Linked DNA regions of Homo sapiens: region 2 is linked to region 1. The links come from fine-mapping of genetic effects on gene expression. A gene starts in region 1. The other region holds a variant in brackets. All regions are shown on one strand. Distances are between the middles of the regions. Region 1 holds the start of HDDC2 (HD domain containing 2). Region 2 overlaps HEY2-AS1 (HEY2 antisense RNA 1).

Region 1 (5,381 bases):
GTGACTTCTCCTACCTCTCTGGCTACGTTAACCCTTTTGAGCTCAACTCAGATTGCACCTCCTCCATTAAGATCAACCAAGAACAGGTGATCTCCCCTGCTCTTACAATACTTAACATTTTCGACCATAACTTACATTTCACTTCTTACAGAAGCTATTTTGGGCCTGCGTAATTCACTTGGGATTTATTTACTCTCTTACATGCTAGTAAACTTTTGTTCTGTGCTCAAAAAGCATTTTAACACTTGTCGATTAAATGAAGGGGGAGAAGATACCTCTTTCTCAGCTATGTCTTGCACACACAACTCCAAAAGGAAGCCTCACGAATGGATACTACTATCCATAAAAGGCACTAGGAAAGAGCACACAGTGTACTAATACAATGCTAGAATTTTAGACATAACACACTCACCTTCAAGGCCCCAATATCACACTTAAGTTTCCCCTGATACCCTAGGCAGGCTCTATCACTTGCCAACAGAAACCCCAGATTGCAGTTTACAACAACTGAGGCAACATAACCCACATCCTAAATTTGTATGGTTTGCTTCAAATAATTTTTCTTGACCTATAAACTAACCTACAAGGATTTGACATGGGTCTCAGTAGTAAAAACGGGTGCACACCCATAGACCAGAATCTCTCACGAGCATCAAAGTCCAGCTCAGCTTACCGGTCTTTGTTAAGACGGTCATCTTTGATCACCATAGCCATAACTGCCATCCGGTACATGTGATCTGAAACGCTCTCCGGCCTCTGGACATTTCTGTATACCCAGCCAGTTCGTGGGACTCTCTGATAAATATGAAGAAGAAAAAGAAGTTTTAAAGAACAAATATTAACTATCTGCTATGCTCTTCAAGAGATGTCCAGGATATAACACACAGAAGCCGGGTCATAATTTCAGAACCTATTACAAAATGTTTTGCTAAACTAGCTAAAATGATAGACATCTGGAATCAAATGAACTAGAGAGCTCAGAGAATGAAAGGGGTAGAAGACAGAGAGAGATAAGTCACAAAGTCCATTCGTCAAATTATTCTGTTACTGATGTATAATTATGGAACATATGCAAGTCCTTTAAACAAAAACAAAACTGCATTTTTCCGAACAAGAGTTGCGGCTTTTTGCCTTCAAATAATCCTACACAAGCAGAAAACACTGTATTGAAGGGTCTGAACGTGAACGAGTGATAGGCTTCCAAATTCTGAGGCACAAGGGATAAGGGCACTTCTAATTGCTTGATGCTACCAGCCGTGACTCTTCCTTTTATTCACATCATAACTTCATCTTGTGAAACTGCATTTCTTCCTCAGAATTCTACATCTCTAAGGAATGTTATAAATAGTAGTCAGAGTGGCATGAAACGGATAATTTACTTTGAACTTGGGAGAGAGACGGGGAAGACGCACATGATGAAACTCGTGTGTATTACATTAAATCCCGTTTGGGGGGTGGCCGGGAGAAAAGTCTTGTTTCTGGAAGTAACTGTGAGACAGACATAAAAAGCTCCACTTAAAATCTGAGGAGCCGACAGATTCTGTTCTTCCCACCCGTGCTCAGAAGCAGCCGCGCTTTACACACACACACACACACACACGAGTTCTGGGGTCGTGAGCACACACACACACACACACACACACGAGTTCTGGGGTCGTGAGCCCCGGAAAAGCTCAGTGCAGGCAGGGCCAGGCCGGCTGCTCTCCGGGAACTGGCGCGGCTGCAGTGCGGACCTCGCGGCGCCAGGCTCTAGGCTCAGACTCCGGGCCGCCCCAGCTGGCCAGCCTGTCCCGCCGGCTGCTTCCTCCGTCCACCGTCGGCAACGCGCGGCCGCATCCGCAGGACTGGGGCCTTTCCGGAATTCGGCGTGGCGGACGCGGCGCAGGAAGGGCAAAGACCGCCGGCCGAGCGGGGAGGCCGGAAGCTCCGCCGCCCCACAGTCCCGCCCGCTCGGCCGCGGCCTCCCGGCCTGGTGCCCGCTCACCTTGAGCTGCCCTACCAGCCGCAGGAACTGCAGTAGGGACCGAGCCCCGTGGCCCGAGAAGGTCGCAGAGGAGACCGAAGCCATGCGGCCACCGACCCCGGCTGGGCGGAGCAGGCCGCGGCGAAGCTCCTCCCCGTCCTCCTCCTCCTCCCCTTCCCCTTGTCTTTCTTCCCCCTCCTCTTACTCTTCTATCTCTTTCTCCTCCCCCTCTTCTTCTTCCTTCTGCCCCTCTTCCTGCTCCCCCTCTTCCTCCTCCCCTTCCAACTCCTCCTCCTCCTCCCCCACTTCCGCTTTCTCCTCTTCCTCTTCCTCCTGCCCCTCTTCCTCTCTCCCCCTCCTCTTCCTCCTCCTCCTGTTCTTATTCCTCCTCCCCCTCCTCCTCCTGTTCTTATTCCTCCTCCCCCTCCTCCATATTCTCACGGTTTTCTCAGGACCTTCTGTCCAGCCTTCGCCTTCTTGGCCTTGGTGTCCGCTGCTTGGGCATTGCTCCGTCAGTGGCAGACACCTTGCTTGGCACATACTTGACACTCAGTACTCTTTATGAAAAATAAAGCTCTCCTTTCTAAATTTATGAACCTCGTTATTCTTCAGTTGACAGTGTAAAACCATGAAACTGGATGAGGTCACCTGGCAAGAGGGTGTGAATGAAGAAGAAAAGACACCCAAGACCTGAACCCCAACATTTAGGCTTTGTGAGATCAAGAGGGAACAGCCAGTGAGGTAGGAAGAGGATTAGTAGGTAGGATAGTTGTGTCCTGGAAGCCATGTACAAAAATATTTCAAGAAGGAAGGAATATGGTCAACCAAGTCAATGTGAGGACCAAGGTTTGACTTCCAGACTTAGTAAATTCAATATTATTGGTTACCCTGACAAAAGCAGTTTTCAGTGTAGTGGGCCAAGCAGAACCTAGTGAGATAATTCCGAAGAGAATAGGAGCAAGTATTACAGCACATTGGAGATGGGGTTGGGGTGCTGTTAACTAGTGGAGAGATTGTTTCAAAACAGGAGATATTATGTATGTTTACTGATGAAGGGGATCTAGTAGAAAGGGAAACATTGATTATGTAAGAGACAAAGAAGAGAAATATTTGAATGTCGGCCTTGAGTAAGGAAAAATATTCCCATCTGGTGTACAAGATAAAAGATGGGCTTTAGATAGGAATATGGAGAATTCATTCAAATATTGGAGGAGGACAGAGTATAGGGTGACTAATCAGTCGCACATGTGGTCATGGGAGGTTGTAGAAGTTCTCTTCTGATTGCTTCTATTTTCTCACCAAATTAGGAAGCAAAGTATAGGCTGGGATGTTATAATAACAAACAACCTCCTTATTTCCTGTATCTCAGCAGTTTAACACATCAAAGGTTTATTTCTCTCTCATGCTAAGTGTCTATTGTAGATCAGCTAGAGGATGCTGCTTGCTCTAACCTTACTCAGGGAGCTAGGAGGCTTTCTTTGCTCTCTTTTGCCAAAATTGGAAAAAAGAAAAGTGGCACTCTGGCTCTTAAAGCCTGTCTCTGGAAGTGATATATGACCTTTTGTCTACGTATCATTGGTGAAATAAGTAACACTGCCACGTCTAACTTCAAAGGGGGCCTGTGGAGTGCAATCTTGCTAGGCCTCTGGGAAGAAAGGAGGCTAGAATGTTTGTGAATAGAGGAGGAGGCATTTGAGGTTTAAGGAGTGATATAGTTTGGCTCTGTGACCCCACCCAAATATCATGTCAAACTGTAATCCTCAAAGTTGGAGGAGGGGCCTGGTGGGAGGTGATTGGATCATGGTGGCAGACTTCCCCCTTGCAGTTCTTGTGATAGTGAGTGAGTTCTCATGGGATCTGGTTAATGGTGTGTAGCACTTCCCCCCTTTGCTCTCTTTCTCTTCTGCTCTGCCAGGTGAAGACGATGCCTGCTTCCCCTTCACCTTCTACCATGATTGTGAGTTTCTGCAGCCATGCTTCCTGTACAGCCAATGAAATACCTTTTCTTTATAAATTACCTAGTCTTAAGTAGTTCTTTATAGCAATGCAAGAATGGACTAATACAAGGAGAAAGAAGGCATGAAATAATTTTTTTGAAGACTGGTTCAGCAACAAGATTAAATATGACTAAGAACCAAATAAATGCCAAGGACATTGGGGCTTGTATTAAACGTGGTTAGGATAATGACCTGGAAGCCATTTTTATGATGGTAAGTGGTGCTAAATAAAGGAAATATCAAGCCAGGTGTGGTTTGTGCCTTTATCCCAGCTACTTGGGAGGCTTAGATGGGAGGATCACTTGAGCCCAGAAGTTTGAAGCTGCAGTGAGTTATGATCACTCCAGCTTGGGAAACAGAACCTGTCTCTAAAAAATTAAAAATTAAAAAATGGAGGGATCAAGGTTTAAAAAGAAGGATCAAGAATCAGAGGCAAAGTCAGACAGTCCACTGGAGGAACACGAAAGCAAATGACCAAAAAGATCCAGGAGAATAAGGAAGATGAGGATGTTGGATTTGCTGAAGGATGTAGTAAGGGGCTTTCAAGAGATAGGTGCCATGAAGCAATGGGGCTGCAAGCTAGCTGGTGAATGTGCAGTGTAACCCTTACGGTTCCTTCTGAGCAGCCTTGTCTTCTTTTGCCAACAATGCATTGATTTCCTTTGAGCTCCTCCTGATTCATGCAGGCTTGATTTAGTTTCCATGGGTATTTCTGTCTGTATTTGCAACTTTCTTTGCAAAATACACGTGAGTTATCTTAACTTTGTGTAGTGAGCTGTAAAGAATTTCTCCAGTTTCCTAAGTGATCAGAAGTTGGAAGACGTCAAGTTGCTGAAAAATTATGAATTGAGTATAAATAGTTTTTGAGGGACACTATTTAAAGATGATATGGATTTTTGGAGGGGACATTACTATCTAAAAGTAAATTGTTACTGTGAAAACTCAAAATATAGTGCCGACTTCTTGCTTTTGTAAACTGAAGATGTTCATCAGGGTTCGTAACAAGGTTTATTCCTACTATATCATTAAAGACCAAGATGTTTGACTCTAGAAGGTGGAATAGTAGCCTCTTAAGGATATCTAATTTTTCCAGAGCTTGCAAATATTTCTATATTACATGGCAAAGGAGAATGGTAGCAAATGGAATTAACTTTGCTAATCAGCTGAACTTTAAATAGGGAGATTATCCTGGATTATCCCAATGAGTGAGATGTAATCTCAAGGGTTCTTAAAGATGGAAAAGGGAAGGAGAAGAGTGAATGCCAAAGGGATGTGATGGGAGAAAGACTCAACTGGCCATTGCTGGCTTTGAAGATAGAAGGGGCCATGAGCCAAGGAATGCAGGCAGACTCTAAAAGCTGAAAAAGACAGGAAAATTAGATTCTCCCCTAGAGCTTCCAGGAGGAAATGCAGTGTGGCCC
Region 2 (5,381 bases), 270 kb after region 1:
TCAATATTTACCATATGTGTTGATGGTACTATTGTTTTCATTTTGAGATTAAACACAATCTTTTCTACATCCTCTCTCAATTCTAATATTTTACAATTCTAAGATTTTTGGGAGTACAGATTTTTGAGAGAGTACTGTACAGATTTTGAGAGTACAGTTCTAATCTGTATTACAATGACATCAAAATTCATTAACTTTATTCCTTACTTATATCAAGTCTTCTATATTCCCCATATGTCTGAATTTATTATGCCCTGTATGTACCCCAACTCCTCTGCCTCTCTGCAAAAATGAACATCCAAGATCCAACTCAAAGTCTTAAAAAAAATCAAAGCCTTATGTTTTCACAGATTTCCTTGTGATTAATACAAGAAGAAACAAAGGGAAACTGTAAAAGAGAATTATCACTACCTCTAGGATGGCTGTTGAGAGCTGGAATAGTGTATCCAGGAAACAAATACAATAGAAGAGTGTTAGGCACCAGAAAAACTCACTGCCCATCAAAGCACCTAGGGCCACGGGGTACCAGCTTGGTTCCTTGAGGAGCAACACACCAGTGTAGCCCAAATAGGTTAAAGCACAGCCAGCCGGACAAGAGACTCAAAAACAGACAAGTGTGCTGCAGAGAATGACGCTTCTTGAAGCAGAGAGGTGCTCTCATTGCACGCCAAGTGCAATGGTCTGAGCTGCTGTTGATGGGGCATCAAGGGGGCAAGAGATTGGTTCCGGATCATCCTGCAGCTCAAGATGTGCAGACTTGTGGGGTTGTGGGTAGAAAAGCAAACATCCATTGGCTTCTGAGTCATTATGAATTGAGAACATTTTGAAAGTCAATTCCAAAAGATGGAGCAAGAGATGATGATAGGACCTAACATAAGGCCTGGTCACAGGAATATTCAACACAGAGGAGTGGATATGGGGAGGTACAAGACTCTTGGAGAAAGGAAAACAGCCCTTTACAGTAGAGTGGGCCATGGGTGGGAGCCACTAGGATGCCAAGTTAGCTCCAGCAGCAAACACCCACATTCTTATTCCCATGGTAATACAGGAAAGAGCACTGGACTTTTCAACTCAAAATAACTCCTCAATAAAATGCAGTCAGTCCAATAAGTTTCCTTCAGAAAGATAGCCTCTTGTCCAAGTAAGTATTTGCAAAGCCTCTCTCCTCAAATCTTCAATACAGGGAATTAGCCATTGCAGAAAGCCTGGGAAGAATTGGGCAGCCCCCCCTTTCCTCAAGCACCACCGTCAATCATGACCTAACACTTCATAAATAACCCAAAGAGGAAAACTTTCCTCAGTCGCATTTAAGCCAGCGAGGTGTATATAGCTTTAACAGATCCAGGACACTTATCTCAAGCTGGGAGTGTAATTTCATGGTAATAATTTGCTTAAAGTGTTGCTGATTGCTTCCTATTTCTCCCCGTTAATGACTTTTGCACCTTTCCACCATTCCTTTTATATGTGCTGCTATGGCCATTACCTTACAGGAGGCTGTTTGGACAACACAGGGCCTTTCCATAGGCTGCTAAGACCTGTACTGGACACTCCCAAGACCTGAAAAGTCTCTTTCGTATAGGTTCCATTTTTTTTTTTTAAGTTTTTTTTTTTTTTTGACTTCTGTCAATACATTGCTGTTTCACAATCACTGCTACTCTTGCAGTGCATATATTCAGGAAGCAATTGAACAAAGGTAATTTGCTGTTCATAAATTTCCCAGTGACTGAAACCAGCCTGCAAAAGGTGGTGTGGAGAGCATCAATTTGGATGTATAAAAGAATATATCTCGTTATGGCTAGAAGTCCAATGTGGAATATCTTGGAAAGTGAGTTAGCGGTCTGAGGGTCATTTGAGAGCCTCTTAATCTCTACATTTTTAAAGCAACTCATGCTTGCAGATTTTGGAAAAATATTTTCTTCCCCTATTGGCAATGATTCCAACTTTGAATGATGAAGTAGCTTTTCCCAGATTTTATGAAGAAAAAAAATAAATAGTATGTTCCTCATGCAACCAGGAAACATAATGCTTGGAAATGCCAGGGAGTAAGGGCGCATTACAGCAAATGAACAGTCCTGTGGGTCAGCTCCGCGTCTCAGCCTGACTTCTCCCCTTCTAGTTTCAACCTATCTCTTCTTGCCATATATTCACCTTCTTCCAGCCCTTGCCATCCATCTTTTTTCTTTAGATTTCCCTAATATGTATACAGTGTTCTCTCCTATTCTTATTTGTGATATCTGCCCTTCTCACCTCACTTTCATTCCACCAGAGGCAGGGCAGTCCTGGGATCAGAGAGGTGGACAGA[C/T]GGCAAACAGCGGGTGCTCCTCAGGTTCAGGCATTTGATTTCACTGCCCAAATTCCTCATTTCAGCCTGAAGGTGAGCATGAATGAGGAACTGAATAGAGATCCAAGATACTGCACGTGCGTCAGCACCACCATGACAGCCCAGGCTCTGAATCACAAGGCGCTTTAATCCCTCAGTGACAAACCCACCTAAGGAAAGGGATACCTGAAACCGGACCAGGAAATATTTGTGCAGGAGGCAGGGAACTCGATCTGCACAGCTTTTCTCAGTCATTCAAATTCCAATTGAAAACAAGGACAAGTCCTAACTCCAAAAACAGAGTGTTCTCAACACCCACGTCCATCATCCCGAAATGTAACACAGAAAGAGTTTACCAGGGATGTTGTCCCAAGACTCCTTGCATAATTTGTGGTCCACTTGCAGCAAAGGCTTCTCCTCAGGGCCCCCCAATGTTTTCCTCTGCAAAGAAAGAAGGTGACTTCACAGATTCAGACCTTGGAGGAGTGTACTGTCACAGTTCATGTCACACTCACAAAAGAATCAACCTCATAATGTGTAGGTTTCATTCATTCATTCTTCCAGAAAATTTATATAAGCTGCCTACTATGTGCTACACATTGATCTAGTGCTCAATGATCTCTGCCCTCATTGTATTGTAGAAGTAGGTGGGAGAGTCAATAAACACATTAAGTAAATTACCTTGTAAATTAGAAGGCAATAAGAATTTAAAAATTGAATAGGGTAAGTGAGTGGGACAGCAAGGGACAGTAGGAATAGGGTAGTCCCAGTGGACCTTATTAAAGAGGAGATATTTCAGCCAAGTCTTTTTTTAAAAGCAATTTCAACTTTTATTTTAGATTCAGGAGATACGTGTGCAGGTCTGTCACATGGGAACACTGTGGGATGCTGAGGTTTGAAGTATGAATGATCTGGTCACCCAGGCAGTGAGCACAGCACCCATAGGCAGTTCCTCAGCACCCCCTCTAACACTCCCCGACCCCAGCAGTCCCCAGTGTCCGTTGCTCCCATCTTTATCTCCACATGTACTTGATGTTTAGTTCACGTTTATAAGTGAGAACATGTGGTATTTGGTTTCATTTTCTTTTCTTTTTTTTTTTTTTTTGAGTCGGACTCTTGCACTGTCGCCCTGGCTGGGTGCAGTGGCGCGATCTCGGCTCACCGCAACCTCCACCTCCCAGGTTCAAGCGATTCTCCCACTTCAACCTCACAAGTAGGTGGGATTACCACCACACACCACCACGCCCGGCTAATTTTTTTGTATTTAGTAGAGATGAGGTTTCACTATGTTGGCCAGGCTGGTCTCAAATTCCTGACCTTGTGATCTGCCTGCCTCAGCCTCCCAAAGTGCTGGGATTACAGGTGTGAGCCACCACATCCGGCCCTGGTTTTCTATTCCTTAGGATAATGGCCTCCGGCTGCATCCATGTTGCTGCAAAAGACATGATTTCATTTTGTATGCCTGCATAGTATTCCATAGTATATATGTACCACATTTTCTTTATCCAGTCCACCACTGATACACATCTAGGTTGATTCCATGTCTTTCCTTTTGTGAATAGTGCTGCAAAAAACATGCAAGTGCATGTGTCTTTTTTGTAGAATGATATATGTTCCTTTGGGTACATACCTAGTAATGGGATTGCTGGGTCAAATGGTAGTTCTAAGTTATTTGAGAAATCTCCAAACTGCTTTCCACCGTGGCTGAACTAATTTACATTCCCACCCAAAGTGTGTAAGTGTCCCCTGTTTTCTGTAGTCTTGACAGCATCTGTTATTTTTTGGCTTTTTAATAATAGCCATTCTGGCTGATGTGAGATGATATCTCATTATGGTTTTAATTTGCTTTTCTCTGATGATTAGCAATGGTGAGCATTTTTTCATGTTTGTTGGCTGCTTATATGTCTTCTTTTGAGAACTGTCTGTTCATGTCCTTTGTCCACTTTTTAATGGGGTTGTTTTTTGCTTGTTGATTTAAGTTCCTTATAGATTCTGGATATTAGACCTTTGTTGGATGCATAGCTTGCAAATATTTTCTCCCATTCTATAGGTTGTTTACTTGTTGCTAGTTTCTTTTGCTGCGCAAAACCTCTTTAGTTTAATTAGGTCCCACATGTCAATTTTTTTGTTGCAATTGCTTTTGAGGACTTACCCATCAATTCTTTGCCAAGGCTGACATTGAGAAGGGAATTTCCCAGATTTTCTTCTGTAATTTATAGAGTTTGAGGTCTTACATTTAAATCTTTAATTCATCTCGAGTTAATTTTTGTATATGGTGAAAGGTAGAGGTCCAATTAAAGAAGGTGAGGGAGATATCCAAGCAGACATCAAGGAGAGGGCACTGAGAAAGAGTTGGAACAAATAACAAGAGCATTCCTTATGTGACCCAGGAGCAACAAGGAAGCCACTGGGGCAGGATCTGCATAAGAGATCAGAGTAGGAGGCAATGAGGTCAGAAGGTAACGGGGGCTCTACAAGTCCTTGTATGGATTTGAGCTTATATTCAGAGAAAAGTGGAGAGCCATTTGAAAGTTTTGAACAGAGGAGTAGAATGGCCTTATTTCCCTTTTAAAAAGATCACTTTGACTGAGAATACACTCTGTGTGTGTGTGCATGTGTGTGTGTGTGACTTAATCTATGTGACAGATGTTGGCAGCTCCACCAGAGTGGTAGCAGTGGAGGTGATGCAAAGGAATCAGATTCTGGTTAAATTTTGAAAGCAGAGCTGACAGGATTTTCTGATGAATTGCTTGTGAGATGAGAGAGAAAGAAGAGTCAAGGATGACGTCAAGTTTTTTTGGCCTAAGCGATTGTAAAAATGGAGTTGCCATCACCTGCAATGGGGAAGTTTAGAAGTTTAATTTAAAATGATTGAGTTTAATAGATTTTAGTCATTTAACAGTGATTACAAAATATTGCAATGACATTATGTACTCTCCTATTATTTCACAGATTGTAAACATTGTGATTTACATTTTGTGCAGGCCTAGAAAAGCTAAATATTCAATTAGGAAGATTAAAGCTGCCTCTGAAAAGCAGCCTAGGACCTGCAGACAGTCAT

The links. PIP is the estimated chance that this variant, and not a neighbour inherited with it, causes the effect.
Region 2: its variant is the best candidate, but not a certain one, in a credible set for the expression of HDDC2 in cerebellum (GTEx, PIP 0.78).

Annotation. Positions count from the first base shown.
Region 1 is chr6:125,299,865-125,305,245 of GRCh38, forward strand. HDDC2 (HD domain containing 2) reads right to left here and starts at 2,103. Exons shown (of 6, transcript NM_016063.3): 1 at 1,985-2,103; 2 at 674-795. The coding sequence starts at 2,068. RefSeq lists a silencer at 1,793-2,132 and a cis regulatory region at 3,626-3,806.
Region 2 is chr6:125,572,368-125,577,748 of GRCh38, forward strand. It overlaps HEY2-AS1 (HEY2 antisense RNA 1), which reads right to left. Exons shown (of 5, transcript NR_183491.1): 5 at 5,161-5,381. Among named protein-coding and RNA genes, the nearest start is that of LINC02523, 99 kb to the right of the region's middle. The variant C/T (reference allele first, on the strand shown) is at 2,303.